Linked DNA regions of Homo sapiens: all the other regions are reported to be linked to region 2. The links are microRNA targets in miRTarBase. Many come from high-throughput screens and were not tested one by one. Region 2 holds a microRNA gene; each other region holds the end of a gene's coding sequence.
The links. The annotated mature microRNA hsa-miR-6499-3p reads AGCAGUGUUUGUUUUGCCCACA and lies in region 2 at 1,518-1,539, opposite strand. An mRNA with a match to its seed (bases 2 to 7 or 8) in the 3' UTR can be bound and repressed. Matches are read on the target gene's strand: a 7mer-m8 pairs with bases 2 to 8, a 7mer-A1 pairs with bases 2 to 7 and ends in A, and an 8mer does both.

Region 1 (5,000 bases), not on the chromosome of region 2:
TCGCTAATATTATACAGCGTGAAGTTTAATAGGAGGGAGAGAGATGCACAGAAATCATGAGTGTGCATTGCAGCATGAGAATGGATGATACAAATGTTGAAATCATTCATTTCAGCACTTAAATGTTTCCTAATGACATACAGTATGCCTGGAACCTTCAAGACATCAGGATAGACAAAACAGACAATCTCTGCCTGTAAAGATGTTACAGTCTAGCAGGAGAGCTGGCAGTTTTCAAATTGTAGAAATACAATCATGCATCACTTAACAGGGATACTGAGAAATGCGTGTCTGGACATCTTCAGCCACCCTAGAGTGTACCCACACAAGCCTAGATGGCATAGCCTACTACACGCCTAGGCAGCATGGTGTGGCCTATTGTTCCTAGGCTATAAACCTGTGCAGTGTGTTACTGTACTGAATACTGTAGGCAGTTGCAACACAGTAGTAAGTATCTATGTAGGTAAACATAGAAAAAGGTACAGTAATAATATGGTATTGTAATCTTATGGGACCACTGTCATATATGTTTGTTGTTGGCCAAATTGTCAGTATGTGGTACTTGACTAAGTATTTAATGGCAATGATAATAAATGCGACAAAGGAACTATGGAGACTATGGTAGCATAATAGGGACACCTCACTTACTCATGAGGAATAAGAAAAAGCTTCCCTGAAAAATTACGACTAAGCTGAGATTTGAAGAATAATGTGGAGGGTGGGTGGGAGGGGTATTAGTGACACCAAGGGGGTTGTAAGGGTGTTGCTGGAGGAGGGAGAGACTCTGAGAAGGCTCTGAGGCAGGGAAGCTCTTGGATGTTTGCGAAACTGGGAGGATTTGAAGGATGGGGTTGTCAGGGTGTATCTAGTGAGGGCAGAGCAAGCCAGAAGAGTAAGCAGAGAGCAGGTTGAGCAGGACTTGTAGACCTTCTTGGGATGTCTGACTTCATCCTCAGACCATGTCGCCAGTTGAGAGCTTTAAGCAGGGTGAGAGGGACAAGCCAGTTGCCGCATGGCATGTACAGTGAGAGGGGCTGTCGTGTAAGCAGTGGCTGGTTAGGGGCCTCTGCAATAACCCAGCAAAACTGAAGAGTGTTGGCTTATGAGCTATGCGAGGTGACAGTGGAACTAGAAGGAAGTGGTGGCTTTTGAGAAACGGGCTGGACTGGCCCTGATATTGAATTGCATTGGAAAGAGAGGGAAGTGTGGAAGACGATGCAGGGCTCTGCTATCAACTAGCCGATGGTCCACTTACCAAGGTAGGGAGCACCAGAGGGGTAACAGTCTCGAGGAATGGATGGAAGTTTTCATACTAGGTGAGTAGAGTTTCAGATGTGAAATGGGCAGGAAGATGGGTGGGCCTGATTCTCGGAAGAGGGGGCTGGGTTGGGAGTCATGGGCATCTGGCGAGTACAAAGGCCACGGAGTTCCCAGCATGAGTGTGAACAGTGAGAAGTGTCCGGGAGCAAGCCCTCGGGGGAGCCCTCGCTCACTCCCTTCTCCCAGCAGCAAGTGCAAAGGAACAGTGTCACTGACCAGGGCTCTCGCACTGTCTGGCACACAATCACCGAAGTTTCCAAGCCAGTACATTTTATTTTTATGAATACAACATAAAGCCAGAAACATTCCCAGCCTCATTGTTTTCCAGAAAAGCATCTACCAAACTCAAATGATATTCCTAACCCCTAAACTTATCACAATAGTTACGCTTTAATGCGCTACGTCTACTAACAAAGCCAGATACATTGCCCTCCTCCAATACAACAAAGTCCCCCTGATGGGCATGCCACAATGTACGCCCAACTTTACTGGGTGATCATTTTTGTCCAAGTGCATATATTTCATCATTAAAATGTTAAAAAACAAATATTTAAATTTCTCCCTTTTTTGCCTCCATATGGCTGGTTAATATATCTGAATAACAACTGAGTAGCTTTCTTTTATCCCTTTGAGTACAAGGAGCTTGGAAGATACTCCTTTCTGACTCCCACGTCAGGGTAGGGTCTGGATCACCACAGGGCTTAGAATTGGGTGGAAAAACAGGAGGGAAGAGCTGGGGAGACCAGTCGTGACCCTGGGTGACAGAAAAACATGGACTCTGAACTCTGGCAATCCAGGGTTGGAATATCCTAGATTCTACAACTTCCATAACTATTCATTCTCCTCCCCTTCTCTCCTGGCAGCAACGTAATAATTGAGACACTGCTGGTCTCAGATTCAGCAGGAATGAAGATCAGCGAATACATATTGTTGGGTAACTTCTTAAATCTGATGGTACATTAGCCAGAAATGCTTACAGTGTATTTTATAATAAACTTATGTTAATGGACTAACATGAAGACTCTAAATCTCTCTTACTGTTAGTCCTTATCTACAGTGCCAAATGCATCAGGTAGGTTCAACAAAATCGAGAAACACCACGAAACTCTGCATAATTAGATGAGCGCAAACTACACTTAATAGCACAAAATATCAAACACCTGCTGCTGTTCTTTAACGATGACTTGATATTCTATAGAATTGGAGATGTGATGGCTTGAAGCCTCCTGCTTCCAAAGAAAACACTAACTGGAATCCTTCACAAATGCCCACAACTAGGTTGAGCTCTCAGTTGGGTCCACTTCTATGACTAGAGTCAAGGTGAACTGAATCACTGCCTGCCTGCTCCAGTCCTTTTAAAGGTGGTACAGCACGTTTTTAAACTGACACTGACATCTCAAGAACCAACAGAGTGATGGAAAAAAGTTGAACGCAAATGTGTTCTGCTTTTTTTTTTTTTTTTTTTTTTTTTGGAGACGGAGTCTCACTCTGTCGCCCAGGCTGGAGTGCAGTGGCATGATCCCAGTTCACTGCAACTTCCGCCTCCTGGGTTCAAGCGATTCTCCTGCCTCAGCCTCCCGAGTAGCTGGGACTACAGGCATGCACCACCATGCCCAGTTAATTTTGTATATTCAGTAGAGACAGGGTTTCACCATGTTAGCCAGGCTGATCTCGAACTCCCGACCTCAGGTGATCCGCCCACCTCGGCCTCCGAAAGTGCTGGGATTATGGGCATGAGCCACCGCGCCTGGCCCTCTGCTTTGTTTTTATTTGGAGTCATAATAGAAAAAAATTTTAATAAGCCCCTAAATGATTCTCCATTAATGTGATTTAAATAATAAATTCATAAAGATTGATTTTGTTTATATACACTCAACTGTAGAAAAATGACTGTCTTTTTTTGTTGTTTACACCGTCAAATCCAATCAAGCCAAACATGATGGTTAACTAAAATGATTAATGAATGCAGCATTAGCTGATGGCTTTAAATTTAGCGTGTGTTACTGATGTCAGGGTTGATTAGTTCTCTATCTAAAACTGATGCTATTAAAAGCTTTGAGCAATTTAGATGTTGTCATTGAGTAAAACTTCAATGGGGTGAGAGAAATTCTATCAGGATAAATTCTGCTCTGGTGCAACCTGTGCACAGATGTTGGATAGAGAGAGAGTGGGCCTTTTCTGATGGGACAGGAAGAAGGAACGGGAGGCAGAGAAGCTGACAAGGTGGCATCGATCTCAGGAAAGGTAAAGAAGCTTGGAATAAAAAAAAAAATACTCATCTTTGCACAAGGACTCCCAAATGGCATATGGGTATGAATATTGATCATTTCAGCTTCGGAACTTTTCAAGAAGTGGGAAAAAATAAATGAAGGGGAGGCAAGAGGTTAATATAGTACCATGCCTTAGTAACTCCTCTGAAAATGAATCCATGGGGAAATCATTGTAGTCAGTGGTGGAGACCAACATTTTTATTAATAAGATAAAAGGAAAGAGTGGTAAAGCAAAGGCGATCATTGGATGGAATGATTATGTGTCACGAGCACTTGAGGACCTAGAAAGCAAACTGGAGTGATTATGCCAATCAAATTGCAAGGTTGGAGATATGCTAAAAGGTTTGAAGGAATCCAATCCTGGGGCTATTGCACAGGACTTGGGGAAATCAAGTTGCTGCAAGCAGCTATGACTTGAGGAAGGTGTGCAGTGGGGGACCTTAAACCATTTCCAACATCTGTGCCTTTGAAATATTTTATTACTGATCCAGATATCCCAAGACATTTTAAATGGAAGGGAAAATGTACTATACTAGACCCAAATTCTCTGGATATTTACATTCCATCCCTGTCTAGGGATGTGGGGGAGGTGAATCTGTCAGTGGATCAGATCAGACTAGAAGGTTCTTGTGATTAATGGAGCTGGGCCATCTCTAAGAAAAAGGCAGCAAATAATTTGGTTCCCTCTATGTAGTTCCACCTAAGAAGAGGAAAAACAAAGAGAAATTTTGTTACAATTTCCATTCAAATGAAGGAGGAAAAATATTCTGTCATTTAGACAGGAAGATTTGATGTTATAAATTCCATTTAAATTATTTAACATACTTCTGAGATCCCAGTATGAAAAGCACTTAGTAAGTTCCATGTGAAAATTGCATTATTATTATTAAGAAGATGAGAATCAGTCCTAGACTCAAATCCAAAAGTGAATTTTCCTTGATTTCTTATCACTGATATGGATATCAGGGTCAAACAATTTCTTGTTTCTCAGTAGTCTGGGATGCTTAGGAGATCTTGTAGTATCTGCCAGTAGCGCATAAAGCAAACATTCCTAATAGCCTTTTTTGTTATGCACTAAATATTTGTGTTTCCTCAAAGTCCTGTGTTGAACCCCTAACCCCCCAGTGTGTCTGTATTTGGAGACAGGGCCTGGAGGAGATAATAAAGGTTAAATGAGGTTAAAATGGGGGTCCTAATCCAATGGGTCTGGTGCTCTTATAAAAAGAGAGACACCAGAACCACCTAACCCCACCATCGCAGGGACGGCCAGGAAGACAGCCCATACCCACCAGGAACCAAATGGCCTGGCACCTGATCTAGGGCATCCAGGCTCCAGAACTGTGAGGAATGAATGTCTGTTCTTTAAGCTCCCAGTCTGGACGATTTTCCATTCTCACATAAATTGAACAG
Region 2 (5,177 bases):
CTTATTGTGGGCCAGCCATGGGTTAAGTGCTTTTATAACTCTTACGTAATTTCCCCCCCGAACCCAACTCCAGGAGGCAGATGTATTTATTTTGACTATTTTATAGATGGGAAACTAAAAAGCTCAGAGGGTTTTAACAATACACCCAAAGTTACACAGCTAGTGACTGATGGAGCTAGGGTTTGAACCTGAGCTGTCTGAGTCTAAGCCTTGAGCTTATAACCACCAGACTATGGTAATAATAGTAGCAGTATTAGTAACTCACATGTATTGACCACTTTCTATATGTCAGGCACTGTTCTAAGCAAGCACTTGATACATAGTACTGATGTAATTCCTACAGCAGCCCAGCTCAAAGGCACAGAGAGGTTAATTTTCCTAAAGTCGCCTGGTTAGTAAGGGGTAGAGCTGGGATTTTAACCCATGAAGACTGAAGCCACAGCCTATGCTCTTAGCCATGATGTTAAACCACATATTGTAGTCTTACTGTTATTTTCTAAATCTCGAAAGGGAGCTGAGAATTGGGTATTATTCCATAACTAGATTTTGTGAGGCCACTAGCCGTCTTATGGTGATTGGTGGCCTTTGGGCTTATTAAAACTTCCCTGAACTCTCCCACAGAGCCTCAGTGGAATCTCCATGCTTAGAGTCAGGCGGGCTGAGCCCAGCAGTGCTGCTCGTCCCTAGGGAAGATGTAGTACTTACCATTGCAGGAGCAGCTCCTCTGCAGGTGGTGCCGCGGGGTTAGGATGCTGAGCCTGGCGGTGCTGTACGTGGGCCCAACCTTGGGGTCCAGATGCACTGTGTTATGGCAGATTTGACCCTGGCAGGTTGGCCCCTGGCAGGGCACCATGGGCATAGCTGACCGCATCTGAACCCCCACTGAATGCTCCATCTCCTTGGCTGAGTGAGTGATGATGGATGCTAGCTCCTGAAACTCGTAGAAGGTTCCAGAATGCCCCTCAAAGACCAGGAGCACATCCACACCAGCCACGGCCTCTGCAGGCTGGAGGCTGGCCAAGTGAATGTTAGCCCGTTTGATGTCCAGCTTATGGCTGAGGAACCTCTGCAGGTTCCGCCAGTGGTCACTCACCAGCTCCTCGGGGGTGAGCTGGTAGAAGCCCATCCACATGGCCTGCTGCAGAGCCTCCTGCCCCACATGCCACACGTACACATGGACCCCAGCAGTCGTGGTGAAGGTCCCATCGCTGACCGTGACGTTGAACGAGTAGTGGCCACGAGGCAGGCCCTGGGCGGCGATAATCTTGCCATCAGGCGCACCCACTGAGAAGTGCCTGCCCAGGGTCTCCTCTTCTGCCAGGCTATAGGTCAGCGTGTCCTGGGGGTCTCGGTCTGTGGCATGGATCTTACCCACCATGCCACCCTGGAACTCATCCTCTCCAACAGTGATGAAGATCTCCAGTGGGAGAGCAGAAGGTGCATAGTGGCTCTGCTCTGTGACATGGACACGGACAGACGTCAAAGACGAGAGGGGAGGGATGCCACTGTCTGACGCCTGTGGGCAAAACAAACACTGCTGTCACCCAACAGAACTGCAGTGCTCTTGCGCCCGACTGAGGCTGGGCCTCCTTGTGGAGCTACGTTTCTCTGCCCCACGCCCAACTTGAGGGCTGGCTCAGCGCATTGTTGCATTTAGAAAAAAAAAACCTAACTCCAAAAGCACTGACAGAAAAGAAAGATTTTCTGAAGGTTTTGTAGAGATTGAAGGAGGGAGTTACATCCTATACCATGCAGTAAAACAATGCAGTTTCCTCATGTGACATCTCTCTGAGCCTCTTCCTAAATCTCTCCAGCCATAGACTTGGGCTAACTTCCTCATGAAGTTTCTCATTCTGTCCCTGTCCTCAAGGGCGCCCTCAGATGTCTCAGCAATTCTGATGCACCATGCACCCTGCTCAGCCTACGAAAATTCCCCTTGGGATTCCCTTTTGCTATGCGATTGGAGTGGGAGTCGGGATTTGTCCTTCTAGTCAGTCAACGAAGTCTTCTGCTGTGGCCAGGAGAAAAGAGACAATAAATAAGTTACCAAATAACTTGGATAAAATGCTGGGAAGGAAATAAACAGAGACCTAACTTTGATCAGGTAGAAGAGAAGGAGTCTCTGTGGAGTGACATTTGAGTCCTGAGGGATGAGAAGAAGAGGCGACAGACAGAGGGAGCAGCAAGTGTAAGGTCCTGGGGTAGGAATGAAGGCGGTGTGTTCAACAGCACAGACGGGGTCACTGGTGCTGGAGCAAGTGGGCAGGGAAGCAGGCCTGACCTCACTGATGGGCTGGCACGCGCAGGGTTGCAGTTAATGTCAGAACTGTGAAAAGCCGTGAGGGTGACAGGACCTCACTTAAGTAGGGAAAAGAATGTAAATCATAAACGCATTTTCCTTTCATGTTTCACCACACATCCCTGCAACTTCCTGCCTGACTTAGAAAGGACAGGCTTGCCTTCTTCTCCTCAGTGATGTTATCACTTCCTCAGCTGTCAACGAGGGTCTCCACAATTTTCCCTGTAGTAATATCTTGTTCACCTGCACTCCAACACTTTTAATGTACAAGAAAGTTGATAAGATTACACCTACTGCTGGAAGTCATGCATAACACCGAAGAGATATTAATAGCAACAATAATAATTAACACTACTGTTAATTATAATGTATAGCTAACATTAGTTACAACAATACTACTACTACCGATTATATATAATACATAGCTAACATTAACTGAGTACAATGCTAGTCATTATCATAGATAAACTATGATAATGCTGTAAATACATTATCCTAGTTTATCCTTCTTATGAGATAGGTACTATCAAGTCACCCATCCTACAAAAAATATAACTGAGGCTCAAAGAGGTGAAGTAACTTGCCCAAGGTCATACAGCAGCAGATAAGGCCTGAGCAGAATCTGAATACCTATCTGTGTCTATAGCCTGTGTTTTTCTTTGCTGGCCTATGGTGCCTCCCAGTGCATGGAAGTGGAAGTACGGGACCAATGCAATTGATGGTGATGATGCCAGTCATTACTAAGCTCCTGTCTAGGCAGGACGTGTGCCTGGGTCTGAGAATACAGAGGTCAGGAAGCCATTCTCTCTCATCTCTCCCTAGGCAATCACATCCATGCTCTTGGCTTTGAGGGCCATCTACCAATCCTCTGAGCTGCCAACTCCAATTCCCAGCTACCCACTGGACACCTCTGCTTGGATGTCTCACAAACAACTGGGAAATAATGTGCAAAACAGAGCTTCGGTTTAGCCCATAAACCTGTCCTGCCTTCCCGTCTGGGCCTTTCCAGTCTCATAAATGCACTACCACCGAAGTCTTCATGGGAGCCAACAATTTAGAAATCACCCCTGAATCGTCTCTGTTCTTTCTAACTGCACATCCACTCCACCAACTCCTATCAATTTACATACAAAATATGTCCGAAATCTCTCCGCTTCCTGCATCTTCTCCATCACTCCGTGGTCTCAGCCCCACTATCTCCAGCTTGGATGACTTCTCACTGGTCTCCCTCACCCACTCTATAGAGCTTGAAAAATGAGCTTCCTGAGACACAAAGAGGATCCCTTTTCCGTCTGAAACCCTCCAACCACCTCTCATTGTACTTAGATTAGAATCTAAAAGTGTTACCAAGGCTTATACTTAGAAGATTGGATGCCCTGGTTTGTCAAGGACAGTCTTGATTTTTACCTGTTGTAAATCAGCTACTACCAAGTATTATTTTTAGTGCCTGTTTTGGACTCTATGTTTGTGTCCCCTCAAAATTCATATGTTAAAATCTAATCCCCAGTGTAACAGTATTTGGAGGTGGAGCCCTTGTGAATGGGATTAGGGCCCTTATGAGAAGGGCCATGTGATACAATGAGAAGCCGACAGTCTGCCATTCAGAAGAGGGCACTCACCAGAACCTGGCCATGCTGGCACCCCGATCTGGGACTTCCAGCCTCCAGAACTGTGGGAAATACATTTCTGTCCTTTAAGCCACCCAGCCTATGGTGTTCTGTTGTAGCAGCCCAAATGGACTAAGTCAGTGCTTCTCTCACTCTCAAAGATCACAGTTTGGACCTCAGATAATACAGTCATCCAAGCCACAAGGCCCACATGATCTACCCAGCCTATCTCCTCAGCCTCATTCCCACCCCTGCTCATGATGTTCTCAGTACCTCAGCCATACCTCAAGCCACTTCAGGCTCTTTCCCAACTCATGTTGCTCTTCCTGCCTGGAAGACTCTCCTGCCCACTTTTCACATGGTTGGCAGCTTGGCTCTCTGCTCAGATGTCACCTCCTGGGGGCAGCCTCCCTCTGAATGTGTGTCCCCCTGTCTTATGAGTCTCTCATCACTTTACTTCCTTATCATCATTTGTAAAGATGTTATTTCTTTCTTTATCTGTTTATTGTTTATCTCCATGATTACAATGGAAAGCCCCTGGAGACAGGAATCATTCCCTCCTTACCCTCTGCTATGTTCCTAGCAGCTTGCAAATGGCCTCGCATGTAGTAGATGCTCAATAAATACTTGTCGAGAGATGGACTGACTGACTGAAAGAATGAATACATCATTCCCAGCCCATAAGTTTACAGAATAGTAGGGTCCACTGGACTTGAGATTTAGGAAAGAGATTTGGAGAAATAAAGTGAGGGAGAGATATCAGACCACCATCTTGGCCACTGTTCTTTAGCAATTCCTATGAAACCCATAACACCACCACCAGAATCCCCTACACACATGTGCATACAATATCTCACTTGAGCCCCAAGCCAGTTCTCTGAGGTAGGTTGTTTTAGCTCCTGAGGTTCAGAGAGCTGTTCTGGCTAAGCTCTAGGAGCTACAGCCAGAGGGTGTTTTGCCCAGGCACAGAGCAGGGATTAAGAATTTGGAGTCTGGGGTCAGAGTGCTTGGGTTTGAAGCAACCCACCTTTGCCACTTATTACCAGTATTACTTTAAGCCAGTCACTTAAATCCCCTGTGTTCCTCAGTTTCCTCATCTGTAAAGCGGGGTGGTAACTATACCTGCCCTGAGTGTTATGAGGCTTTAGTCCTGAGAAGGACCTAGCCCAGTGCCTGATGCATCCTAAGTGCTTTGTACATTTTTTCCCTAATGACAGAAGCACTGGTGGGGCTTTTGCCAGCATCTTTACTGTCCCCATGGTCACCACCAG
Region 3 (5,000 bases), not on the chromosome of region 2:
AGTGGCACAGTCCTAGCTCACTGCAGCCTCAAACCCTGGGTTCATACAGTCGTTGCACTTCAGCCTCCCAAGTAGGTGGGACTGCAGGGCTCACACTACCAAGTCCAGCTAATTTTTTTTTTTTGCAAAGACGAGGTCTTGCTTTGTTGCCCAGGCTGGTCTCAAACTCCTGGACTCAAGCAATCCTTCTGCCTTGGGCTCCCAAAGTGTTGGGATTACTGGTGTGAATCACCATACATGGCTACAGCTGTACTGCTCAGATCAGGATACACCATGTACACTCAGTTTGGTTCTGGGAGTCACGTACAAAAAGAGCACCAGAGCACAGGAGGGTGAACACCTTCGAAGGGACCTGCCTTCAAGAAGGGAACACACTTGTACTGTGTGACCCAGAGCTGGGCTGGGATTCCTGCCCTGACATAATTTGAGAAATGGCCATGGAGAGGTTGGGCTTGCTTTCTCTTGGGGCCTAGGGCTTTGTCTGGACTCGCCAGGGCTTCCATCTTGGAAGCGAACAGCTTTGCTGGGGAAGGCCTGGTCCTAGGGGATGAGGAAGGCTGTTCTTGGGCTCTTGACTTGCACTGATTTCCCCTTTAGATCCCAGTGCTTGCTATGTCTCAGCTCCACTGTCTTCCAGCCTCTAGTATCCTTTCTTTGCCAGGTCCTAGAATGTTTTTCAAGCTCCAGGGCTGTTGCTGACTACCTGCTTTGTGCCTCTGTCCATTTTTTCAGGGCCTCTAGGACTGCCTGGTTCCACTCTCATTTATCCTAGAACACCAACTCAGTTGAGCTCCCAAGGATAGGCAGGAACTGAGTCTTATCTGGCATTCCATAAAGCTGGGCACTTTAGATATTCCTTATAGAAACATTTTTGGTGTTTAAGGTCAGAGCTGGGCTAAGGGTAGCACCCGTGAAAGGCAGGATCTACGGGTCCTGGGGCTGACTTCTCTCCCATGACCACTTCTAGGACCGAGAGGAGCGGAAGCTGCTGCTGGACCCTAGCAGCCCCCCTACCAAAGCTCTCAATGGAGCCGAGCCCAACTACCACAGCCTGCCTTCCGCTCGCACTGATGAGCAGGCCCTGCTCTCTTCCATCCTTGCCAAGACAGCCAGGTAAGTGTCAGAGGACCAGGCCTGGGTCAGAGCTCCTCTATCCATATTAAAGGCTAGGATAGAAGGAGCCAGGCTCAGGACATGGGGGATGGGACAAGGTCACTGGGGAGAGGTGCCTCCATGTCCAGCCCTGCTCCAGTAGGCAGGAGGGAAACTGGTGTCAGATAGCCCTGGAGTTGGTACCTGGCACTGAGTCCTGTTTGTCCTTCTCGGAAGCACCTGTCATGTCATCTCTGTCTCCTCTCCCCATAGCAACATCATTGATGTGTCTGCTGCAGACTCACAGGGCATGGAGCAGCATGAGTACATGGACCGTGCCAGGCAGTACAGGTGAGCACCTGGCCAGCGTGGGTCCCTCAGGCTACTTGGGCTCCCACCCTCCATCACTGTTCCAGCTTTGGAGCCTGGCCCCTAGTCCAAGCTTCTCATTTGGTGCAGCCCTGGAGACTGACCACAGATCACTTGGGTGCTTCAGTAGTTATTCATGTCAGCCCTGTTTACCCTGTGACACTCTTGAGGGCGCTGAGGCCAAGGGAGATGGGCCTAGATTGAGTCTGTGATGAGCTGAGACCTTCCCTCCCAGATACCCCTCCTCGACACCCTGCTTCTCTGGCCTGAGGGGATGAGGCTTACCTGGGCTGGGCAGGGCAGACTGTGGCTTAACTGCCTACCCCCACCCCCTCTCTCTTGGTCAGCACCCGCTTGGCTGTGCTGAGCAGCAGCCTGACCCATTGGAAGAAGCTGCCACCGCTGCCGTCTCTTACCAGCCAGCCCCACCAAGTGCTGGCCAGTGAGCCCATCCCGTTCTCTGATTTGCAGCAGGTGAGACACCCCTCACCTGCCCCTGCCCACCCTTCTCACACTGCCCAGGGTATGGCAGAGGGTTCACCCACTCTGCCTCAGAGGAGGTAGGGAAGGTGGAGTTAGGGAGCCTGGTAGCCTTGTAGGCCCCAGCTCCCTCCCACCTCGTTCTCTTAACTTTTTATGTCTTTCCTATCTCCTTCCTGCAACCTTTATTGTTTCACTCCCCTTTGTTCTTTTCCTTCTGTCTCTCCCATCCCTGTCTTTCTCTTTGCCTTCCTGTTCCCCTTCATTCCCTCCTTCTCCATCACCATCTAATCTCCCCTCCCCATTTTTCCTGATTGCCCTCCTCACCTGTCTCTGTTCCTCTCCTCCCCGGCCCCTCTCTGTCTCAGGTCTCCAGGATAGCTGCTTATGCCTACAGTGCACTTTCTCAGATCCGTGTGGACGCAAAAGAGGAGCTGGTTGTACAGTTTGGGATCCCATGAAGAGAGGGGTCCTTGGACAGCTCTTCTCCTCTCTTCATCCCATCTCTACCCCACCCCCTTGGCCCCCAGCCTCACTGCGGCTTATACAGTACCCTAACCTGCTACTAATCACAGAGAAAAATGTGAAGAAGGAGGAGAAGAGGAAGGCTAGAAGCCTGAGCAAGTGAGGGTAGAACCTTTTGGGACTGGCCTTTGAAGCTCTGGCCAGGGATGGGGTGGGGGCCAAAAGGACAGAGCCTGGTATGTCTTCATAGTCATTGAGAATGTGGAGATACCAGTTTGGGTGGGGGGTGATCACCAGGGGACCTAGGGAGATCCCCTTCCCACCCTCTCTGTTGGCCTCAGAGTCACTCCTGCCCCCTCTCCCTGACTTGGTGCTCACATGCACCTCACTAGGGTTTGTGACCAGGGTCTGGATGAGCTTGAATTTGAATGAATTGAGTTTGTATTTCTAGAACCCTGGGTTTTTACATGTTTGGTCTTTTTTTGTTTTGGTTTGTCACCCTCGATAAAGGAAGTATATTCATCCATGTGCTGGTTCTGGCCCCTCTGTTCTACCCATTCTACTTTTGATTACTTAGGTCTATGAGAGTAAGATGGGGGGAAGGGGACATCTTCCAGGGATATTGAAGATGAACCCAAGAGACAAGGGTTTAGGGTGTCAGCTCTTAGCTGAGACCTGGCTTGGGCTAACCTCAGACTGGATGAGACTGTTCTTGTCCCTTGTCCAGTGATGATGGGAACACTGTCAAAGCTGAACAGACCTGAATCTGAGGCAGCTTTGATTCTTGGGGGCCCTGCCTCAGACTCAATGGAATTACCAACAGCCCCTGGGGGTGAAGGGAGACATGGCGGGTTGGGGGGTGGAGAGAGAAAGCAGACCAGGCTCTTCTGGGAATACCTAATATGGAGTCAGCAAGCAAATGTTTTTAAGCAGAAGATTCTTTTTATCAAATGAAATCTTAAGCAGAATCCCAGCATATAAAACAGAATGGAATTACTTTGATCTGATTGAAGTGGGGGCTGGTTTCAGAGATCATAGGCCATCTTCTTGGCCTGTCATGGAGGCCTGTGAGGCATCTCTACAGACCCTGGTACTCTGTGAAGAGTTTGGAAATTACTGATCTACTTTAACCCCCAAATCTCTAAGCTGAAAAGTACAAAGGGGCCCAGAGAGTTAGATAAATTTCCCAAGGCTGTGTGGTAAACCCACGTCTCCAGTGTCCCAGGCCAGCAGGCCTTTCCCTCAATTGCCTCCCTTTTTCAGCAAAATAAGACTAGAGCTGGCCAGGTGCAGTGGCTTATCCTGTAATCCTAGCACTTTGGGAGGCTGAGGTGGGCAGATCACCTGAGGTCAGGAGTTTGAGACCAGCCTGGCCAACATGGCGAAACCCCATCTCTACTAAAAATACAAAAAAAGGCTGGGCGTGGTGGCTCACGCTTCTAATCCCAGCACTTTGGGAGGCCAAAGCAGACGGATCACCTGAGGTCAGGAGTTCAAGACCAGCCTGGCCAACATGGCGAAACCTTGTCTCTACTAAAATATAAAAAATTAGCTGGGGGAAGCCGAGGTGGGTGGATCACAAGGTCAGGAGATGGAGACCATCCTGGCTAACATGGTGAAACCCCGTCTCTACTAAAAATACAAAAAATTAGCCAGGCGTGGTAGTAGGTGCCTATAGTCCCAGCTACTTGGGAGGCTGAGGCAGGAGAATGGCGTGAACCTGGAAGGCGGAGTTTGCAGTGAGCCGAGATCGTGCCACTGCACTCCAGCCTGGGTGACAGAGCGAGACTCCGTCTCAAAAAAAAAAATTAGCTGGATGTGGTAGCAGGCGCCTGTAATCCCAGCTACTCAGGAGGCTGAGGCAGGAGAATCGCTTGAACCCAGCAGGCGGAGGTTGCAGTGAGCTGAGATCGCACCACTGCACTCCAGCTGGGGTGACGAGTGAAACCGTCTCAAAACAACAACAACAACAACAAAATTAGCCAGTCATGGTGGCAGGCGCCTTTAATCACAGCTACTGGGGAGGCTGAGGCAGGAGAATCTCTTGAACCTGGGAGGCTGAGGTTGCAGTGAGCCAAGATCGTGCCACTGCACTCCAGCCTGTGTGACAGAGTGAGACTCCGTCTCAAAAAAAAAAAAAAGAAAAGAAAAGGCTAGAGCTACTTGCAGTTGCCTGAGTTAGAGAACATCTCTACAAGGTGTAAGTGACTTCTCATCTGCTCAACAGCTCAAATTATTTATTGTCAAACCATGCTGTCTATGCTTAGGCCTTTAGGACTACTAGGGTCGTGGGAGCCTCAAAGTGTATTCTGCTTGGTCCAGGCCTTCTTGGGCTTGATGTTCATGCGTTTCCAGACTTCAGCTGTGGTGCGGTCTGCTTTGGTGACCCCACTGAAGTCGAACGTGGTGATACGGGACAGGGTGCACAGCACATATTGCCTGTGGGGAAGACTTAGGCTGGGGGCCAGCACCCCCACCAGAATCCCCTTCCCCCTCCACTAGTTGCTGTTGTCTTCCCTGACTGCAAGGAATGGAGGGACTTGAGCATAGTTTGGGAAAGATTAGGTTTATCCTGACTGAGAGCAAGGAATGCT
Region 4 (5,177 bases), not on the chromosome of region 2:
GAATGTTTGTGGCCACCTAAAATTCATGTTGGGAAGCTAATCATCAATGTGATGCTATTAGGAGGTGAGGCCTTTGGGAGGTGATTTCATTATGAGAATGGAGCCCTCGTGAATGGGGTTAGTGTTCCTTTATAAAGTGGCTCCAGAGAGTGGCCTGGCCCCTTTTGCCATGTGAGGACACAGTTTGAAGATGCCTTCTGTGAAGGTGAAAGTGGGACCTCAGAAGACACCGAAATAGCTGGCGCCTTGCCCAGCTTCCAGAACTGTGAGAAATAAATTTCTGTTGTTTATAAGCCAGCATTTTATTATATTTTGTTATAGCAGCCCAAATAGTTTCTGTAATAGTTGTGCTTTTTCTTTATAGTGAACATATACTGTACTTTTATAATCAGAATGAAACAATATAAAATAATGGAATATCTATGCAATAGATTAATAAACCAAAGAAATGAGTGCACAATTTATAAAATAGAACAAATCTGTGTTAAATTTCTTTGGTGTGATGATGGTGTTGTGATTATGTCACTGTTCTTAGGAGATACATGCTGAAGTATTAGGGATGAAGTAACATGATGCCAGCAATTTACTTTCAAATTTTTCAACCAGAAAACAAAAGAGAGAGAGTTTGTGTGTGTATAATATGTCTGTGTAAGTCTGTGTGTGTTTGTGTTTGGAGAGAGAGAGTATGAGTGTAAACGGCAAAATGTTAATATTTGGGGGAAAAAGGTAAAGTATATACAGGTAATCATAGTACTATTTTTCAACTTTCAGTAGGTTTGAAATTTTTCAAAATAGTTGGGGTAAAATAATGTTTAATAAAGGTTTGTAAAAATACCCATTATAGTAACTGAAAAAGGTAGGATTTCATGGCAGCTGTCTTTACATAATAGGGTTATGGATGATTTTCTTTTCATTCTTCTGAGACAGGGTCTGGCTCTGTCACCCAGGCTGGAGTGCAGTGGCATGATCTCAGCTCACTGCATCCTCTACCTCCTGGGCTCAAGCATCCTCCCACCTCCGCCTCCGCAGTAACTGGGACTACAGGCATACCACCACACCTGGCTAATTTAATTCTTTTTGTAGAGATGGGGTTTTGCCATGTTTCCCAGGCTGGTCTCGAACTCCTGGGCTCAAGCAATCTGTCCCCACCTCAGCCTCCCAAGGATTACAGGTGTAAGCCATCACGCTCAGCTGATGATTTTCTTTCTACTTGTCGGTGCTTTCTCAATTTTATTTATGTATTTATTTATTTTTGAGACAGGTTCTCACTCTGTTGCCCAGGCTGGAGTGTAGTGGTGTGATCACGGCTCACTGCAGCCTTGAACTCCTGGGCTCAGGTGATTCTCCTACCTCAGCCTCCCAGGTAGATAGGACTACAGGCGCATGCCAACATGCCTGACTAATTTTTGCATTTTTTGTAGAGACGAGGTTTCACCCAGGAGTCTCAAACTCCTGGGCTCAAGCTATCTGTCTGCCTTGGCCTCCCAAAGTGCTGGGATTATAGGCATGAGCCACCATGCTTGGCCCTTTCTCAGTTTAAATAATAAGGATATAATATTTGGGGAATTATGAAAATTATTTTTAAAATAGCATATTTTAAAATTTGAATTTATAAGCAGAAAAGGATCCTTTGTTTCAGTAATTTTGGGGGATGATATATGAGACATCCAATAGGATAGTGATCTTTGTAATGAGAAAGAGTGTGTGAATGATAGATGGGATATTAATATAATAATAGAAACCTGTTACTGGCATCTTTCAAATGTTAAGAATTTCATATACTCAACTTTTGTAGTCATCACAACAATGTTGTAAATAGGTATTAATAATTATCTAAACTTTTATAGATACTAAATAACAGAGTGAAAATGGAAACAAAGGCCAAGCAACTTGGTGCATGTATGTTATTCCAGTACCTTGGGAGGCTGAGGTGGGTGGATGGCTGGAGGCCAGAAGTTTAAGACCATCCTGGTCAATATAGTGAGACTCCATCTCTATGAAAAATTTAAAAATTAGTTGAGCATGGTGGTCTGGGCCCTATAGTCCTAGCTACTTGGGAGGCTGAGGCCAGAGGATTTCTTGAGCCCAGGAGTGAGCTATGATCATGCCACAGCACCCTAGGCAGCCTGAGTGACAGAGCCTCTTAAAAAAAAAAAAAAAAAAAAAAAGGACACAATGTTAAAACAAAAGTTGAAACAAAGTCTGTCTTAGATTTCCAAAGTTTATACTCTGGTAGTTTCTTGTGATAGAGAGAAATTTTATAATTGGATTCCAGCTGGCTGACATAGTAAACTAAGCTGGGCAAAAAGATAAATAGCAGATAATAGCTCTCCCCGATCAGAAATGTAATCTAATCTGTCATGAGATTAGAATTAAAAGGAGGAAAAAAAAAAAAAAGAATAGAATTGTAAACCTAGGCTGGGAGTGGTGGCTCACCCCTGTAATCCCAGCACTTTGGGAGGCTGAGGTGGGCAGATCACTTGAGCCCAGGAGTTCAAGATCAGCCTAGGCAGCATGGTAAAACCCTGTCTCTACAAAAAATGCAAAAACAGTTGGATGTGGTGGGGTACACCTGTAGTCTCAGCTATGCAGGAGGCTGGGGTGGGAGGGTTGCTTGAGCCCAGGAGATTGAAGCTGCAGGGAGCAATGATTGTGCCATTGCACTCTAGCCTGGGCAACAGAGAGACTCCACCTCCAAAATAAATACATAGATAAGAAACGTAAACCTAAAGAGTAATTAGAAGATGCCTTTAAAGTGAAAAGCAAAGGTTTCTCCTCTAATTCTGGCAGTACATTTTAGAAGAATTTCTTTTTATTAACATTCAGAGCTTTCAAGTGAATCTGAGTGATATTCAGGTAGTATAAATAGGAAAAGACTAGTGCATCATGCTAATTGCTATATAAGCATTACCATCTGTGAGACCTTGTCGATGGATAAACTAGGAGCTCTTTCAAGAAAGAACAACCAACATTCCATCAGTGTTGCTTCGTCTATAAAAAGCATAGTCATATATTCCTTGAGTGGGATAGATAACCCCAATATTAAACCAATAAACAATATCCCAATATTAGCAATATTAACCCAATATTAAATGTTAATATTAAACAACATTAACCCAATATTAAACCAATAAACAATAATCCCAGTGTCAAACCAGTAATGAAAGAAATTAATACATGGGATATTCATGCTTAATTTCATTTAAATCCTGAAATTAGGTTGACACAAAACAACAACAAAGAACACTTGGTTTTAGATGTTGAATGTAAAAAGAAGGATAAGAAAATAACTATTTCTCCTTTGCTAAATGGATTCTCCTAAGTTCAAGGGAAATGAGAGTTGACTAATAGTAGATATAATTCAATCAACATTTTCTTTTGTTTCATTTTTTGTGTGTGTATGATACAGAGTCCAGCTCTGTCGCCCAAGCTGCAGTGGTGCAATCTTGGCTCACTGCAACCTCCACCTCTCGGGTTCAAGCAATTCTCGTGCCTCAGCCTCCCAAGTAGCTGGGATTACAGGCATGCACCACCATGCCTCGCTAATTTTTGTATTTATAGTAGAGACAGGGTTTCACCATGTTGGCCAAGCTGATCTTGAACTCCTGACCTAAGTGATTCTGCCCACCTCGGCCTCCCAAAGTGCTGGGATTACAGGTGAGAGCCACCATGCCTGGCCCTCATTTTCTTTTGTTTCTTTTAATTCATTTTATACATTAGTTATCATAAAGTTTATCCCAGGTTGGCGTCCCTCTTTTACCCGGCATGCTTTCCAGTTGCTGCTCACAGTTAATTCAGAGGCCCCATGGGATACAAAATTTTAGCATGGGCTTCAAGAAAATAAAGTTTAGAAAGTAGGTTATACTCCTGAAAAAAAGTCATAAATTTCTAAATAAAAAGTAAATTATTTGGGGGTGTGTATACCATAGCTCTCTTGGCAGAGGAAATGAAGTACTGATATTAAATAAATGGTTTTAATTAGAATTTAAATAACAGATAAATACTTGTTTCTCTAAATATACTTTGAGAATTGGAAACAAGATTATAATTTAAAAAAATCATACAAACATTTTTTAGAATAAAATCTAAGAAAGAATTTTTATTAATTTAACCAAATGACAGCTTTCATTTTAATTATAAACTATTATTTGGCATTTATACACATAAAATATATGTTTAACTGAATATTTTGTACAAACTCTATGAGTATTCCAGATACAGAATTATGATTATAAAATAATCAAGATATTTCAAGGAGACATGTGATTCAGTGCCAAAATTACAATTGTATATCTGTCACAATACTTATAGCCCATAAAATGTTCACATGAAATCTCTAATGTAGGCAATTAATTGCTAGAAGAATAAATGATGTTCATTATATAGAACATAGAAAGGGACACAATGCAAAATAAAGATATGAAAGCCTTCAGAATTTCTTTATGTTGTTGCTAGTAAGATGACAAAACATAAAGCTATGAGGATCTGGCCACGTAAAATATTTATAGTAAGTATGCCTTGAGTGCTTGCATGGAAGAAATGCTCTGTCAGCCACTTTTGGTAGAAGGATGGCCCAATATAGACACCAGGAAAACCTCTTCGACCACAGCCATGTCCGTAACTGGTAATTCCCATTACAAAAAATCTTTTATATTCTGGTAAGTAGCACATTAATGGTCCCCCACTGTCACCCTGTCAAAAAAGTCCCAAAATAGTGTTTGTTACTTCTAGTATTCTTCAAGCAACAGTAACACTGGAATAAATTATTTACATCAAACATACATTTATATAAATACACATTTTCAATATACCCCCAATTTATAAAGATCACTAGATTTTGAGCTTAAACTTCCAACTCAAACAGGAGGAATTCAATTTTACCCAGGTATTTGGAGGAACCATATAGCTGGTAGATAAATTTCTCATCTGCCTGGTTTTGAGCCAGAATACTATAAATCAAATTGTTTGGATTTTTAAATATAATTACTTAGGAGAAATATAATTTAGGAAGTGTGCAAAATATTGTCAAAACTGTCTATTATTAGAATATTCTCTTGCTGAATACTGCGTGTGGAAAGGATAACTTTAAGATGTATGAAGGATTCTTTTAGGCACGTGTGTGGTTTGCTTGCCAGGGAGAGGAGTAAACTGGCATCTTGCAATAGAAGACAAGTTTC
Region 5 (5,177 bases), not on the chromosome of region 2:
TAGGACACCTACTCAGTGTCTGGGGTGTTGGAGAACTGGTTGGTATATGGGAAAAAAGCTCACACATTTGGTCACAGCAGTGTTGGAAGTGTTGAGTGTAGTGGAGGAAACTGTTTCCCATATAGCCACTTACTAGTTTTGTGACCATTTACAAGCTAGTTATCTCTGGACCTGTTTCTGCATCTATAAAATGGGAATAGCATGTATCTCACTGGATCAATAGAAGGAAATTTATAGGAAGGCATTAAGGGCCTGGCCTATATATAGATGCTCAATAAAGGGCTGATTCCCACACCTGTAACCCTAGCATTTTGGGAGGCTGAGGCAAGATCACTTGAGGTCAGGAGTTCAAGTCTAGCCTAGGCAACAACGTGATATGCTGTCTCTACAAAAAATAAAAAATTAGCCAGGCATGGTGGTGCATGCCTGTAGTCCCTGCTCCTCAAGAGGCTGAAGTGGGAGGATGGCTTGAGCCCAGAAGTTTGAGGCTGCAGTGAGCTATGATTACACCACTGCCATCCAGCTTGGGTGACAAAGTGAGACACTGTTTCAAAAAAAAAAAAAAAAAAAAAAAAAAAAAGGGCCCAGCGCAGGGGCTCATGCCTGTAATTCCAGCACTTTGGGAGGCTGAGGCGGGCAGATCACTTGAAGTCAGGAGTTCCAGACCAGCCTGGTCAACATGGCGAAACCCCATCTCTACTAAAAATTAGCTGGGCGTGGTGGCACATGCTTGTAGTCCCAGCTACTCAGAAGGCTGAGACAGGAGAATTGCTTGAACCTAGGAGGAGGAGGTTGCAGTGAGTGGATATCATGCCACTGCACTCCAGCCTGGGCGACAGAGCGAGACTCCATCTCAGAACAAAACATAACCAAACAAAAAACAAAAAAAAAGGCAACTGAGGCCATCAGATCAGTTCCTTCCCATGTCAGCATTCTGTGGAGCATTGGCCTGCATTGTAAGGCTTCAGCCTGGTAATCTTTATCTGTTCATATGCATTTGTTTCAACTCCTCTGCCAGAATGGGCATGTCTTTTTTTTTTTTTTTTTTGAGACAAGAGTCTTTCTCTGTCGCACAGGCTGGAGTGCAGTAGCGCTATCTCCGCTCTCTGCTAGCTCCGCCTCCCGGGTTCACGCCATTCTCCTGCCTCAGCCTCCTGAGTAGCTAGGACTACAGGTGCCCACCACCACGCCCGACGAATTTTTTGTATTTTTAGTAGAGATGGGGTTTCACTGTGTTAGCCAGGATGGTCTCGATCTCCCGACCTCGTGATCTGCCCACCTCAGCCTCCCAAAGTGCTGGGATTACTGGCGTGAGCCACCGCGCCCGGTGGTTCATGTCATTTTTTACGAGTGCCTGTCACAGATGTAGCAATCCACATGCACTTTTGCTGGCACTTGCCCCGGGTTACTGAAAACTCATCTGAGATGGTGGTCTTCTGAAATTATTCTTTTTTTTTTTTTTTTTTTTTTTTTCTGGAGACGGAGTTTTACTCTTGTTACCCAGGCTGGAATGCAATGGTGCAATCTTGGCTCACTGCAATCTCCACCTCCTGGGTTCAAGCGATTCTCCTGTCTCAGCCTCCCGAGTAGCGGGATTACAGGTGCATGCCACCACGCTCGACTAATTTTTTTTTTTTTTTTTGTATTTTTAGTAGAGACAGGGTTTTATCACATTGGTCAGGCTGGTCTCGAACTCCTGACCTCCAGTGATCCGCCCGCCTTGGCCTCCCAAAGTGCTGGGATTACAGGCGTGAGCCACCATGCCTGGCTTTTTTTTTTTTTTTTTTTTTTGAGACAGTCTCGCTCTGTAGCCCAGGCTAGAGTGCAGTGGTGTGATCTTGGCTCACTGCAAACTCCACCTCCCGGGTTCAAGTGATTCTCCTGCCTCAGCCTTCCAAGTAGCTGGGATTACAGGCACATACCACCATGCCTGGCTAATTTTTGTATTTTTAGTAGAAACAGGGTTTCACCATGTTGGCCAGGCTGGTCTTTAACTCCTGACCTCAGGTGATCCGCCCACCTTGGCCTCCCAGAGTGTTGGGATTACAGGCGTGAGCCACTGCACTCGGTCTGAAATTATTCTTGATGGGTACAAATATAGCCATTTCTGGAGAAACACAAGCTGGTCTCTTAGAAGACAAGTGGTTGCAGATTATTAAAATGAGAGGTGGAACCCAGCAATCCCACACAGGTGGTGGAGCTGTGACGTGGACCACCTTCTCAAGACCTCAGCTTCTCCTCCTCCATCACAAACAACACTGTCAGGCTTCTCACGATTTTTGGCTTGAGGGAAATACAGACACATCAGATAGAATTCTGCATAATTCCCTGGGATTTGATCCTGGCTGGACTTATTGGCTGCATGACCTTGGGCAAATGATTTATCATCAGTCTTCATTTCCTCCTATAAATGGACAGTGTCGCTTGGTGGATAAGCAATCACATGTGAAAATGGCAACACAGAACCAGCATACAGCAACTCGGTCCTGCCCTGAACCCCAGTGAATGGCTTGAAAGAAATAACACCAGCAATCAGGTAACAATGAGACATATGCAGCTTTATTTAATAATCTGTAAAAAGTCATACTCTGGCAGAGTGATGCATTCCTTATCTCAGCAGAAAGCAAACAGTCTGTCTGAAAAGCCCCTTCCCAAGATTTGGAACTGTGTAACCCTGAGCTTACATCTCAATGCTCCCAAGAGCTGGGCTCTTGCTATGTGGTAGTTGGTCTCCACAATTCTCTCACCCTCCAGCAATACTCTCTGTCTGGCTGTGACTCCCTCACCTAACAGTAGACATGAGGCTGAAAACAACTTTACCTGGACAGGGCTACCCCTACAGATTGGCCCTTTCTCTCCTACAAAAGGGAGTTCATAGGATTAACAATCTTTCTAATGGCTGGGAGCAATGACTCATGCCTGTAATCCCAGCACTTTGGGAGGCTGAGGCAGGTGGATCACCTGAGGTCAGGAGTTTGAGACCAGCCTGGCCAACATGGTGAAACTCCATCTCTACTAAAAATACATAACTTAGCTGGGTATGGTGGCAGGTGCCTGTAGTCTCAGCTACTCGGGAGGCTGAGGCAGGAGAATCGCTTGAACCCAGGGGGCAGAGGTTGCAGTGAGCCAAGTTTGCGCCATTGCACTCCAGCCTGGGTAACAGCGAGACTCTGTCTCAAAAAAAAAAAAAGACTCTGAGAAATGGGTTCTGTATCAATTTAATTTGGCTTCCATTACATCTACTGAAATCAAGGCTATACTTGTTAAACATGATACTGTGTTAATGGCTGTTCCTCTCCCCCCACCCATTTCTCCCCCATCTACATGCTTTTTAGGCCAAACCTCTCCCCTTTCTGGGAACTGAGGAATGGAGACACACTCTCTGTCACAGACCTAAGAGGCACTTCTTGTGGATATGTGGATGTCTGGTATCAGATACTGCAGCGACAGCAGTTTTGCTCTTCAGAGCAGAGGCCTGGCATTTTGTTTCCACCTTCCTGTGCTAAGAGAGTCCAGTAATTAAACCACATTCACTCCTTGGAAAAAACTCTATGTTGTATCAGAACCTCAGCGATGGTTCATGGGCTTCCAGCAGAATATATTCCTCCCTTTTATTTATAGAAGAGTATACAGAAATTCATTTGGACAGAAGGAGCCTCTCTATGTAACAGGCACCCTTCTGCTACTGGTCACAATCAATCAATGGTCCAGACGGCAATTATGATTTTCCACATTCCTCAAAGCTGCTCTCTCCTGAAATCACTTTGCAAATTTTGTTGACCAATTTGCAAACAAAAGAGAATGCAGTGGCCTACCCAACCTAGAAATCTGTTCTGCCTAATTCCCTTAAAAACACCATTGAGAATGCAAAATAAGTCCCTTTTTTGTTTTTTGCAGAAGCACTACAAGAAAGCGTGTCTAAAACCACAGAACTATGCACACACAAACACAGACACGCGTGCTCGCACACACAGAGTCGGGATCAAAGAATCTTATCTGATACATAGTTGGGGGAGCACGGGAAAAAGCTGGCAAGAGAGGATATGGAGAGATCTGATCAGCTAAAGATGTTGGAATGTTACAGTATGGCATGGAAGTGGTTCTTGGGCTATACAAAAAAGGGGGTGGGCAGGCAGAGAGAATGATAAATCCAGGCTACTAGAGAGAGGTTCAGTGGCCATGCATGAGTTAAAGATAGTAGAGGCCAGTTTACTGGATGAAATGTTATATTATGGAGTGGTCATTTGAAGGATGGACTTGCAATGGTCCAGGGGAGGAGCATCTGCTTAGCAGGACACCTCCATGGTCTGGTGTCTGTCCAGGACATCAGGGGACTCACAGGATTCTTGAGTTCCATCTGACTGATTGCTGGTGACAGACCGGCTGAAGGGACTTTCTCCAGAGCCGAGGCTACTCGAGGTTGAGTGGGTTCGTGATCGGGCGAGCCGAGTCATGCTGGCAGATGGTACTGTAACAGAGAACCAAGGGGACTAGAAGATGAAGCCCCGGTTAAGCCCAGCTAACCTAGGAGTCTCATCAAAGTCTTTATGTTTAGCTTTTCCGACTCATTTACCATGACACCCAGGACAAGATATAGCCATCCCCATTTTGTATCATTTGCTCTAGGTGAGTGGCGATATGTGAGGCCACTTTAATCCTTTAGATCTGGTTGGAATCTCAGCTGATTGTAGTCACCGCAGAACAAGGGGAAACCCTAAATCCAGAGTATAGCCTCTTAACTATGCCCACACCATTCAGACAGTGACAGAATGGAGGCTTTGGGAACCCAAACAGGTAACCAAAACCTACAGTGCATGCAAGACTAAACCAAAAGAAAAGAAAGACACACACACAAGTATGAAGGTGTTTCACAAACACAGTGCAAGCCCGATACAACGAGACTACCATCCGTGTCCACAGGCTACCTTGCTACCAGGGAGGAGATTTGTAGGATGGTGCAGGTGAAGGGGAGGGCAGATTGGCTTGGAGCTGACCTCAACACAGGGATGAGGTACAGGTTGCCAGGGACAGAGAAGCAGGTGTTTAACTCAGACTCCTGTTCTGCCACTGCTTGACTCTAAGGTCCTTCCAGCTTGGCTGGGACTGGGCCTTACCTGGCATAGCCTCCCTGCCTATCGTCCTGGGCAGCAGCCACTCCCCTAGCTGTCATTTCAATG
Region 6 (5,177 bases), not on the chromosome of region 2:
CGTGCAGCAAAATATGATGTGATCTCTGTACAGGGCACAGAGAAACTGATAGAGGCTACTCATGGAGAACGTGATCGAATACGGTATTATGTACATAAGGAAGAGTTGTTTGATATTCTTCATGATACACATCTCAGTATTGGACATGGTGGGCGGACACGCATGCTCAAGGAGCTGCAAGGAAAATATGGGAATGTCACCAAAGAAGTTATTGTCTTATATCTGACTCTGTGTAAACAGTGCCACCAGAAGAACCCAGTACCCAAGAGAGGCCTTGCACCAAAGCCCATGACTTTTAAGGACATAGACTCCACATGCCAAGTTGAAATACTTGACATGCAGTCCAGTGCCGATGGTGAGTTCAAGTTCATTTTATACTACCAGGATCACTCAACCAAGTTTATTATTTTACGGCCATTAAGAACCAAACAGGCCCATGAGGTGGTCAGTGTCTTGTTAGATATTTTCACAATTCTTGGTACACCCAGTGTGTTAGACTCTGACAGTGGCGTTGAGTTCACAAACCAGGTTGTTCATGAGCTCAATGAGTTGTGGCCAGACCTAAAGATTGTATCTGGTAAGTACCACCCTGGCCAAAGCCAGGGCTCCCTGGAAGGAGCAAGCCGTGATGTAAAGAACATGATAAGTACCTGGATGCAGAGTAACCACTCATGTCACTGGGCCAAAGGCCTCCGATTCATGCAGATGGTGAGGAATCAGGCTTTCGACGTTTCCTTGCAGCAAAGTCCATTTGAGGCAATGTTTGGCTATAAAGCCAAATTTGGGCTATATTCCTCAAACTTGCCCCGGGAAACTGTGGCTACTTTACAAACGGAAGAAGAGCTAGAAATTGCTGAAGAACAGCTAGAAAATAGCCTTTGGATCAGGCAGGAAGAAAGGGCTGAGATTGGAGCAGACAGATCTGATATGGACGATGACATGGATCCCACTCCTGAAGCTTCAGAACCCAGCACCTCACAAGGGACTTCCGGTCTCCTCTGCTGGTGAACAGATGGCTGCTGGGTGGACAGTCACAGGTGTCTCTCTGAGCATAGTCATCTGAGAACTGTTGCCAGAGGCCCCAGAGGAAAAGATTGAAGGCTGCACTCTCAGGTCAAGTTGTACATGGCAGTCCTTGCTCAAAAAGACAAAAGTTCAGGTCTGTGTATTTATTCTTAGGGCTGCCATAAAAAATTACCACAACCTGGCCGGGCGCAGCGCTCATGCCCGTAATCCCAGCACTTTGGTAGGCCAAGGTGGGCGGGTCACTTGAGATCAGGAGTTCAAGACTAGCCTGGCCAACATGATGAAACCCTGTCTCTACTGAAAATATAGAAATTAGCCAGGCTTGGAGCTGTGTGCCTGTAATCCCAGCTAACCAGGAGGCTGAGGCAGGAGAATCACTTGAACCCAGGAGGCAGAGGTTGCAGTGAGCCGAGACCATGCCACTGCACTCCGGCCTGGGTGACAAAGCAAGACTCTGTCTCAAAAAAAAAAAAAAAAAATTACCACCACATGGGTGACTTAACAGAAATTGAGTCTCACAGTTCTGGAGGCCCAAAGTCTGAAATTAAAGTGTTAGTAAGGTAGGTTCTTTCTGGAGGCTCTGGGGGAGAATCCATTCCATGCCTTTCTCCTTTCTCTAGTGGCCATCGGCAATCCTTGGCAGTCCTTGGCTTGTGACAGTGTAAGTCCAGTCTCTGCTTCTATCTTCATGTGGCCTTCTCCCCTGAGAAGGCCATAATTTTTTATGGCAGCCCTAAGAATAAATACACAGACCCGAACTTTTCCCTTATTAAGCAAGGACTACCATATACAACTTGACTTGAAATACACAGGAATACCTGTGTGTATTCTTTCCTGTCTCTTGTAAAGACATCACTGGACACCAAATCCATGTCACTGGATTTAGGGCCCACTCTAATGAGGATGATCTCATCTCGAGATCCTTACCTTAATTAGATCAGCGAATACTCTTTCCAAGTAAGGTGACATTCACAGGTACTAGGGACCTGAACTTGAACTTATTTATTTATTTTTTTTTTCATTTTTTTAGAGATAGGGTCTCCTTATATTGCCCAGGCTGGTCTCAAACTCCTGGGCCCAAGGGATTGGCCTCCCAAAGTGCTAGGATTACAGGCACACGCCACCACACCCAACCAGGACTTTTTTTTTTTTTTTTTTGCTCTTAACTTTTTTTTTTTTTTTTTAATTGATCATTCTTGGGTGTTTCTTGCAGAGGGGGATTTGGCAGGGTCACAGGACAATAGTGGAGGGAAGGTCAGCAGATAAACAATGGATTAAGGGCGGTGCAAGATGTGCTTTGTTAAACAGATGCTTGAAGGCAGCATGCTCCTTAAGAGTCATCACCACTCCCTAATCTCAAGTACCCAGGGACACAAACACTGCGGAAGGCCGCAGGGTCCTCTGCCTAGGAAAACCAGAGACCTTTGTTCACTTGTTTTTTTTTTTTTTTTTTGAGACAGGGTCTCGCTCTGTCACTGAGGCTGGAGTGCAGTGGCACAATCTGGGCTCACTGCAGCCTCTGCCTCCCCAGTTCAAGCAATTCTCCTGCCTCAGCCTCCCCAGTAGCTGGGACTACAGGCGTGCACTGCCACACCTGGCTAATTTTTTTTTTTTTTGGAGACAGAATCTCACTCTGTCGCCCAGGCTGGAGTGCAGTGGCATGATCTGGGCTCACTGCAGCCTCCGCCTCCCAGGTTTAAGCGATTCTCCTGCCTCAGCCTCCTGAGTAGCTGGGACTACAGGCACGCACCCCCACGAACCCAGCTAATTTTTGTATTTTTAGTAGAGACGGGGTTTCACTATGTTAGCCAGGATGGTCTCGATCTCCTGACCTCGTGATCCACCTGCCTCTGCCTCCCAAAGTGCTGGGATTACAGGCGTGAGCCACCACGCGCGGCCAGACTTACCTTTTTAAGAGACACACTTCTCATTGTAGTCAATAGAAGTATATGTCTGCAAAACAAGAACTGATGGATGAGGTCTCAAGAATGTAAAGCTGGTGGGACTGCCCTAGATATATCTAATACATATTCCTGCCCCTCAGACACATACTCTAAAACATGGAGGCATCACAGGAAAATAAGTAGATGAAGGAAGGCTGGGCACGGTGGCTCATGCCTGTAATCCCAGCACTTTGGAGGCTTAGGCGGCCGATCACTTGAGGTCAGGGGTTCGAGACCCGCCTGGCCAACATGGTGAAACCCCGTCTTTACAAAAATGCAAAGTATTAGCCGGGCACGGTGGCATGCACCTGTAATCCTGGCTACTCAGGAGCCTGAGGTAGGAAGATCCCTTGAACCTAGGAGGCAGAGGTTGCAGTGAGCCGAGATCATGCCACTGCACTCCAGCCTGGGCGACAGAGCAAGGCTCTATCTCAGAAAAAAAAAAAGTAGATGAAGGAAAAGTAATAGGAAGAAACAAGGTTCATCTAAGATGCCCTAGAGACTGGCCACCTTACCAACTGGGCTCTGTTTCCCGCTTCAGGAGAAACTGTATGTGCCATCCCTTTTCTCAGAGCATTATGCACAGATAATTGTGTAACTGCATGAAACATATATTAAAATTAGGTCAGAAGTAAAGTATGGTTGGAATTTGGGTATGCGTCTGCCACTTGTCTGTGTCTCAAGCACTTAAAAACATATCCTATTCCTGGCACAGTTCAGTGCATTTCGGGAAGTGACCAATAGTCAGGGAAATAATCAAGGTTTCTGGAACAAAATGCAAGAGTTGGCCTGAGATCACTGCTCTACCTAGAGAGGAGTAGGGCAAGGCCAGTCTGGGCCATGATTCAGAGTAAGGATGACTGACCCAGCCACAGGGGAGGACAGTGCCCAGGACCTGTGTACTCCTATGTTCCCAATGCCTAAGAGTGCCCAGCCCATGGAAAGTGTTCAGTGAATTTAATGAATAAATGATTCTACAGAAATGGGCACGGGGAAGGAGAAAGGGCCTGCAGTCTTTTATTTTTATTTTATTATTTTTTTTTTGAGATGGAGTCTCGCACTGTCGCCCGGGCTGGAGTGCAGTGGCCACAATCTTGGCTCACTGCAACCTCCACCTTCCAGGTTAAAGCGATTCTCCTGCCTCAGCCTCCCAAGTAGCTGGGATTACAGGCGCCCGCCAACCACGCCCGGCTAATTTTTTGTATTTTTAGTAGAGATGGGGTTTCACTATGTTGGCCAGGCTGGTCTCGAATGCCTGACCTCATGATCCGCCTGTCTTGGCCTCCCAAAGTGCTGGGATTACAGGCGTGAGCCACTCGCCCGGCCGGTCTTTTATTCTTCATACAAGTGTCCTTCCTGCACATCCCAGAGCTATCTAAGACCCATTCTGATCATCACTAATGCCAGTTCCCTCTTCTGTAAGGGGCAGTAACACCCCTGGTGCTGCCTACCTCACAGGATTGTCCTGAGAGACCAGCGAGATTCTGCATGTGAAGGGGCTTTCTCTGAATAGTGAAGTTCTACAATGTGACTCATCTTTGCGGACCCTGTCCTCCACGTGAGGGTGGGAGACCTCTGCTCATTGCCATTTCTTTTCAGATTCTGCAGTGTTAAGTTGGAAGGTTTCCACGGAAGCCACATTATTATTACATAGGAAGTGACATCACTTTCCAGCTTGTTTTGGGGGGCCAAAATCTTGCTATGTTCTTGGCCAGCACCTCAGTTTCCATCCTCCTTCCAACCCATTGTCTTTCTTTGTAACTCTGCCTAACAGGTCTGGGAGGTCCAACTTTGACTGAGGATGTTACCTTCCCCTCCCCAGTGCTGACCTCCTCCCTCCTAGTTACTTGGCATACCGGGAACCACATCATCAACTCCTGTGGGTAAAAGGTGACACATGAGCCATAACACTGCTTGCTTTCCCAGAGATGCCTGGGTTTCCAGGAGCTGCCACATCACTCTTCCTCTTTTGCATCTTAATGTTGGCAGTGGGAAAGAGTTAGAGGTGGATTCCTGGACCCAGTCTGGCCTGCATTATTTCAGCATGTGGAATAGAGGTCACTAACCGGTGTGCCACAGGCTAGTCTCAGCTTGCAAATGTATTTTGTCCACATAATGTTTTTAATTTTTTTTTTTTCTAAACAGAGTTTCGTTCTTGTTGCCTAGGCTGGAGTGCAATGGCGTGATCTCGGCCCACTACAACCTCCA

Region 1: the mRNA of CNDP1 is a reported target of hsa-miR-6499-3p. Seed matches in the 3' UTR shown: 7mer-A1 at 4,017-4,023 and 7mer-A1 at 2,827-2,833.
Region 3: miRTarBase lists LRRC51 as a target of hsa-miR-6499-3p. Seed matches in the 3' UTR shown: 7mer-A1 at 4,472-4,478, 7mer-A1 at 4,302-4,308, 7mer-A1 at 4,142-4,148 and 7mer-A1 at 3,695-3,701.
Region 4: miRTarBase lists TMPRSS12 as a target of hsa-miR-6499-3p. The part of its 3' UTR that is shown has no 7-base or 8-base seed match.
Region 5: the mRNA of NDRG3 is a reported target of hsa-miR-6499-3p. Seed matches in the 3' UTR shown: 7mer-A1 at 3,803-3,809 and 7mer-A1 at 3,118-3,124.
Region 6: miRTarBase lists KRABD2 as a target of hsa-miR-6499-3p. Seed matches in the 3' UTR shown: 7mer-A1 at 1,447-1,453, 7mer-m8 at 2,403-2,409, 7mer-A1 at 2,535-2,541, 7mer-A1 at 2,699-2,705, 7mer-A1 at 3,362-3,368, 7mer-A1 at 4,070-4,076 and 1 more.

The regions. Positions count from the first base shown.
Region 1 is chr18:74,583,786-74,588,785 of GRCh38, reverse strand. CNDP1 (carnosine dipeptidase 1) reads right to left here. Exons shown (of 12, transcript NM_032649.6): 12 at 1,574-4,290. The coding sequence ends at 4,224. Among named protein-coding and RNA genes, the nearest start is that of ZNF407-AS1, 12 kb to the left of the region's middle.
Region 2 is chr5:151,520,571-151,525,747 of GRCh38, forward strand. It overlaps MIR6499 (microRNA 6499), which reads right to left and starts at 1,578; the gene lies at 1,517-1,578. It overlaps FAT2 (FAT atypical cadherin 2), which reads right to left. Exons shown (of 24, transcript NM_001447.3): 19 at 706-1,516. It also overlaps a transcript of SLC36A1 not described here. RefSeq lists an enhancer at 1,414-1,583.
Region 3 is chr11:72,095,224-72,100,223 of GRCh38, reverse strand. LRRC51 (leucine rich repeat containing 51) reads right to left here. Exons shown (of 6, transcript NM_145309.6): 6 at 3,329-4,845. The coding sequence ends at 4,704. The region is part of intron 5 of LRTOMT (leucine rich transmembrane and O-methyltransferase domain containing); the gene reads right to left. LAMTOR1 (late endosomal/lysosomal adaptor, MAPK and MTOR activator 1) reads left to right here. Exons shown (of 5, transcript NM_017907.3): 2 at 968-1,113; 3 at 1,366-1,443; 4 at 1,809-1,935; 5 at 2,310-2,932. The coding sequence ends at 2,402. Among named protein-coding and RNA genes, the nearest start is that of LAMTOR1, 5.6 kb to the left of the region's middle.
Region 4 is chr12:50,886,777-50,891,953 of GRCh38, reverse strand. It overlaps TMPRSS12 (transmembrane serine protease 12), which reads right to left. Exons shown (of 5, transcript NM_182559.3): 5 at 4,070-4,692. The coding sequence ends at 4,441. Among named protein-coding and RNA genes, the nearest start is that of TMT1A, 36 kb to the left of the region's middle.
Region 5 is chr20:36,649,234-36,654,410 of GRCh38, forward strand. NDRG3 (NDRG family member 3) reads right to left here. Exons shown (of 16, transcript NM_032013.4): 16 at 2,538-4,468. The coding sequence ends at 4,287. Among named protein-coding and RNA genes, the nearest start is that of SLA2, 5.6 kb to the left of the region's middle.
Region 6 is chr17:8,364,965-8,370,141 of GRCh38, reverse strand. KRABD2 (KRAB domain containing 2) reads left to right here. Exons shown (of 2, transcript NM_001304947.3): 2 at 1-5,177. The coding sequence ends at 1,008. Among named protein-coding and RNA genes, the nearest start is that of KRABD2, 9.2 kb to the left of the region's middle.